2 separate regions of the Homo sapiens genome follow, and region 1 is linked to region 2. The links come from fine-mapping of genetic effects on gene expression. A gene starts in region 2. The other region holds a variant in brackets. All regions are shown on one strand. Distances are between the middles of the regions. Region 1 has its middle 19 kb from the start of CEP19. Region 2 holds the start of NRROS (negative regulator of reactive oxygen species).

The links. PIP is the estimated chance that this variant, and not a neighbour inherited with it, causes the effect. A credible set is the group of variants that fine-mapping cannot tell apart.
Region 1: its variant is the best candidate, but not a certain one, in a credible set for the expression of NRROS in whole blood (TOPMed, PIP 0.65).

The regions. Positions count from the first base shown.
Region 1 is chr3:196,691,511-196,694,418 of GRCh38, forward strand. No RefSeq gene overlaps it. Among named protein-coding and RNA genes, the nearest start is that of CEP19, 19 kb to the right of the region's middle. The variant A/G (reference allele first, on the strand shown) is at 1,100.
Region 2 is chr3:196,637,984-196,640,891 of GRCh38, forward strand. It overlaps NRROS (negative regulator of reactive oxygen species), which reads left to right and starts at 1,711. Exons shown (of 3, transcript NM_198565.3): 1 at 1,711-1,892. RefSeq lists silencers at 1,348-1,777, 1,798-1,897 and an enhancer at 2,348-2,467.

The DNA of each region.
Region 1 (2,908 bases), 54 kb after region 2:
GGTGCCTTGCTGGGCTGCTGTAGGGACAGCGGGGTCACTGCTTCACAAAGTCACCCTTCCCGTTGCTGGCGGTTTTGATCTTCAGAGAGTTCTGTCTTTTCTTTTTTCTTCTTCTTCTTTTTTTTTTTTTTTCTGAGGCGGAGTTTTATGCTTTTCCCCCAGGCTAGAGTGTGCAATGGCGTGATCTGGGCTTGCTGCAACCTCTGTCTCCTGGGTTCAAGTGATTCTCCTGCCTCAGCCTCCCGAGTAACTGGAATTACAGGTGCACACAACCACGCCCAGCTAATTTTTGGATTTTTAGTAGAGACGGGGTTTCACCATGTTGGCCAGGCTAGTCTCGAACTCCTGACCTCAAGTGATCCACCCTCCTTGGCCTCCCAAAGTGCTGAGATTACAGGCGTGAGCCACCGCGCCTGGCCAGAAAGTTCTGTCTTTTCTTGAGGTGAGAGCTGCTCCCTAAATTTCCAATCACTGTGCCTAGTTTTTCCCTCTAGAAGTAGTAATATATTCTTCTACGTGAAAGATCTGTAAAGAACTAAAGAGCTTTAAGAGCAATCTTTTAACTTTTGCCTTTTCCAGGCAAAAATCTCATCACTTCTTGCAAAGGATTCTCATGTGACATGGTCACTCTCTGTGGGACACACTCCAGTTTGTCAACATCTTTTAAAATGAGGCTCCTGGAAGAAAACATGGCTCCAGACAGGATCTGATCAGGACCTTTCCCCCATCTGAGCACTAACCCTCAATTAATGTAGCGTAGGCTTACATTAGCTTTCTGGGCAGCCAGTCCACAGAGTGTTCATACTGCGACTGCTGCCAATTGGATGCCCTCTGTCTGTTTCACGTTGTTTTTAGGTTAACTGTTTCCTGTCCTGTGCTCTTGCAGTTGGCATTTCTTAATGCAAGTCATGGACTTTACTTGTGTCTCCATAATATCTTGTCCTGTAGGTGTTAGTCCAGTCACTCAAAATATTATAAAATACAGATCTTTTCCTTTTCTTTTTTTTTTTTTGAGATGGAGTTTTGCTCTTGTTGCCCAGGCTGGAGTGCAGTGGTGCAGTCTCAGCTCACTGCAACCTCCGCCTCCTGGGTTCAAGCA[A/G]TTCTCCTGCCTCAGCCTCCCGAGTATCCAGGATTGCAGGCGTGCACCACCACGCCTGGCTAATTTTGTATTTTTAGTAGAGACGGGGTTCCACCATGTTGGCCAGGATGGTCTCCATCTCCTGACCTAGTGATCCACCCACCTCGGCCTCCCATAGTGCTGGGATTATAGGCATGAGCCACCACGCCCGGCTGGCAAAAGACTTTTTAAAAAAACTTTCACATATTGAACACTTACTCCATGACAGATGCTGTACTATGCATATGGTATCTAACTTCCTCCTTACGCTGGCCCAGTGGAAACAGGTATTAACGTCCCATTTTACAAATGAGAAAACTGGGGAAAGGAACAAAGATGAATGTATCCTGATTTCTGAGGGTCTTTTCGGCTGATGACTGAGCAGGGAGATGTTCTACACACACAGCCATTTAAGCCCCACCCAGCAGTCCTAAGGGAAGAGTTAGGCTCAGCACCGGATGAAAGGCTTGAACCACGGGAGCGAGAGCAGAAGAAAAACTCACTCCTGGTTCCTTCTCCCTAGGGTGACACCTCATCCACCTTTTGAAGAAAGTGGGGCCAGGCATAGGAATGGACCAAGAAAATGAAAAACAGTTAAAGCTGGATTTTAAAAATAAAGCTTATTGAGCATATAATGCTATAAAATGTGCTTGCTCATGCAGTTGTCTTGGATGTAAGACCCTGATATTTGGATACAGTGGCTTTATCAGGATGAAATATTTTTTCTTCCTTGACTTCCACCATGCCCAGTTAATTTTTTGTATTTTTAGTAGAGACGGGGTTTCACCGTGTTAGCCAGGATGGTCTCCATCTCCTGACCTCGTGAGCCGCTGGCCTCGGCCTCCCAAAGTGCTGGAATTACAGGCGTGAGCCACCACGCCCGGCCTTGACTTCCTTTTTTGGTTTTGCGGGAGGGAATGGATTGAGTGAAGGAGGAACCCCACACAGTCTACTCTATCTACACAGCATTTATGACCGTGTGATATTTTTCTTTTTCTTTTTTTTTGCCTATAGTTTCTTGTTGGAAAAAGACACGTTTTCTTGTTGACTGTTGCTCCCCGACAGAAATGTGAGCTCCACGAAAGAAAAGTCCTGGCTTTTCCTCTCTGTATACCTGTTACCCAGAACAGTGCTTGGCACCTGTGAAGTGCTTCAGACATATTCGATCAATAATTAAAGAATGGGTCTATGTATGGCACAGACAACCTAGCGTTTTTAAAAGATGATTTAAAAACAGTGTAAATTCTGAGCAAGGCTCACTCTAGATGTGGAGGTAGTCACGTTTAAATTACAAGAAAAAATTGCAGCCAGGCGTGGTGGCTCACGCCTGTAATCCCAACACTCTGGGAGGCCGAGGCGGGCGGTTCACTTGTGGTCAGGAGTTCAAGCCCAGCCTGACACTCCTCTAATCCCAACTACTCAGGAGGCTGAGGCAGGAGAATCGCTTGAACCCGGGAGGGGGAGGTTGCAGTGAGCCGAGACTGCTCCACTGCACTCCAGCCTGGGCAACAGAGCAAGATACCATCTCAAAAAATAAATAAATAAATAAAAATAAAATAAAATTTTAAAAAAGGATAAGAAATAGAAAAAGAAAAAATTGCTAATACCCAGTGCCAAGCCAGAGCTACCTTTTGATAAAAAACAAATACTGCCCTCTGATGGTAGTAGTTTTTTAATTTTTAATTTTAGCAGCAATAAACATCCTCATTTCCTGAATACCAAACTATGGCTGCCCACGATGGCAGAGCCAGTGGGAGGGACAAGAAGATGCACAATGTGCTTTGCCATCTG
Region 2 (2,908 bases):
AATCCCATCTCTACTAAAAACACAAAAATTAGCTGGGCGTGGTGGTGGGCGCCTGTAATTCCAGCTACTTGGGAGGTTGAGGCAGGAGAATCACTTGAACCTGGGAGGCAGAGGTTGCAGTGAGCTGAGATTGCGCCACTGCTCCAGCCTGGGTGACAGAGCAAGACTGTCTCAAAAAAAAAGAGAGAGAGTTGAGTTTGGGATACATCATGTTATGGTGACTCTGGGACATGTAGCAGTTGATTGACCAGTAGACAGTTAAAAATGCAAGTCTGGATCTTCTCTCGTGGAAGAGAATGTTGGAGCTAGAAATTAAAATTGGGGAGTTACCAACTGATTGGTAGACACAAAAGACATGAAGTAGAGAATGTGCATACAAGAGAGAAAGAGGCCTGAATCAAGCACCTGGGTTTGCAACAATTTGATCTTTATTTAGCTTTTTCATTGGTGTGATTGTTATTACCATTATGAGATAATATTTTATTTTTAAAATTATTTTTATTTTTTTAAAGACGGAGTCACACTCTATCACACAGGCTGAAGTGCAATGGCGTGATCTTGGCTCACTGCAGCCTCAACCTCCCTGTGCTCAGGTGATCCTCCCACCTCAGCCTCCCAAATAGCTGGGACTACAGGTGCGTGCCACCAGGTCTGGCTAAGTTTTAAATTTTTTGTACATATGGAGTCTCAGTATGTTGCCCAGGCTGGTCTTGCACTCAGGCGGTCCACCTGCCTTGGTCTGCCAAAATGCTAGGATTACAAGCCTGAGCCTCTGTGCCCGGCCATGAGTGAATATTGTAGAAAGCAGAGACAATGTGCCAGATGTTTGGAGTGAAAAGGACTTGGCTCCTGTTCTCTTAGGATGGACAATGCTACACACAATCCCAAATCACAGGCTATAAGAGAGGTGACCCAATCCTGCAGGACAGTTCAACGTTTCAGATTTGAAGGGGAGTGAGAGAGATCAGAACTGGAGGCCCCTTGTCTGAGCCCCCGACTATGGTGGTCCACGTCACTCCACACGCAGCAGGCACTGTAAATATTTCACCTTCTCTAGACGACAGTAGTTCCTCGAGAACAGGAGCGCTGGGGTAATGCATATGAAGCTCTTAGCACAGTGTCTGGCGCTGCTTCAATGATGGCTATATGATCAATTATTCTTACTCCTTTGAATTCTTGGCAAGAGCTGGCAGGGAACTTTGTACACATCAGGTACAAAAAAACCCATCCGCGCAGTCTAAGATCAAGAAGCTCTTGGCACTCTCTGACAGTCCTCGACAAAGCAATTCCCCTTCTTTCTAACACAGGGTCCGTAAAGGAGATGATCCACAAGGACCGGCTGAGTGGATAAGAAGACAGACTGGCTGAGCGGCTGACCCTGCCAGACGACAGGCTGTGCCTCTTTACCACGGTGCTGCCGTTCCCAAAGTCGGCCTCAGCTTGGTCCTTGGCTGGAAGCTCGTAGCAAAGTTTCTGGGTCAGCAGACCTCATAGGCAAGGGGCCCCTAGCTGGCCGCCCCCAGCCCTGCCAAGGCACCAACGCAAGAAAGCCGGGGGAGCCTCGGTCGCATTGCTGGAAGATCGTCTAAACATCCCCGCTGCTCGGCCGCTAGGCCGGCAGGTGTTCGGGCCCCGCTCCCCCGGCCCGCCCCACCCCCGCGCCCGCGCCGCGCTTCCCTCTAAGAGGCCGGGTCTGAGTGAGCCTGTGCTGAGTCGCCGAGCAGCCCGCTCTCCATGTGACTTCAGTTTCCGTCCGTTCCTTCCGCTGGTGCTAAAATAATCTGATGCCCCACAGCAAGGAGGTAGCCCAGCCCCGCGTTCGGCTGCTCTCGAGGAGGCCGGAGCCCCCGGAGACGATGCGCCCCGCGCAGCCGCCTGCGCCTGCGGGAGCCGTGAGTATTTCCCGCGTGGGGGCGTCCCCGGGGCACAGCCGGGGCCCTTCTCCAGGTGGGCGAGCTCGAGCGAGGTTGGGTGGTAGGAGGTCAGCGTCCGCGGCCCGCAGCTCAGGGCTCACGAGGAAGCTGTGGCTTGCTGCGTCCAAGCGCCGCCGCTTTTGTGCTGGGCGTGGGGGCTGCAGCTCTGGGTGGAGGTGGAAATACCTCCCTCCAGGAGCACTTAGAGCTGAGAAAGGTGGTGCGACGTAGTGGAAACCACGAGGGCTTCAGATTCAGACGTGGGTTTGAGTCCTGGCTCTGCAGGGAGCATGTGAGCAGACAGTTAAGGTTTCTGAGCCTCAGTTTTCTCATCTGCAAAATGGGAACAGAGATGCTCCCTCCCTGGGCTGGGCGACTGGATATGATGAGACCGCTCTGTGCACACTCAGCATGCTGAGCACTGGGCTCTCCTTTCCTGTCCCACAACGTGGATTGAGAACCACTATCTCATAGATGAAGACACTAAGACTGGTTAACAGCAACACCTATCACAGATGCCGTCCACGTGCCAGGCCTGTCCAAGGCCCTGGGGATACAGCTGTGAAAATGTGCAAAGCCCCTTCTCCCACAGAACGTTTGTCCTTGGGAGATTCACTGGGGCTCTGTGACTTGGATCTTAGCCTAGACTTAGATCCATGGCTTATCAGAGGGAGACTAACAGGAGGGCGACGAAGACTCGGACGCTCTTCCGTAGCCCTCGTGGCCCCTGCATGTGGGCCGGCTTCTGAAGGGGTCAGCGTACTTCCCCACGTACCCAGGAGCTAGACGGAAAGAAGTAAGGAGCCACTGGTGTGGCTTTGTGCTGCCTCTGAGAGAAGGTGGACACGTGCCAGTTGGTGGCTGCGACTGGAGGAGGCCGGATCGGGGGTCCTAGGAATGGAGCCTCTCCGGACAGGGCTGGTCGGGGCTGCTGTGCTTCCCTAGGGGCTGAGGGGACCCCACCGGAGGCTTCTTCATGATGGGCACAGCCCGTT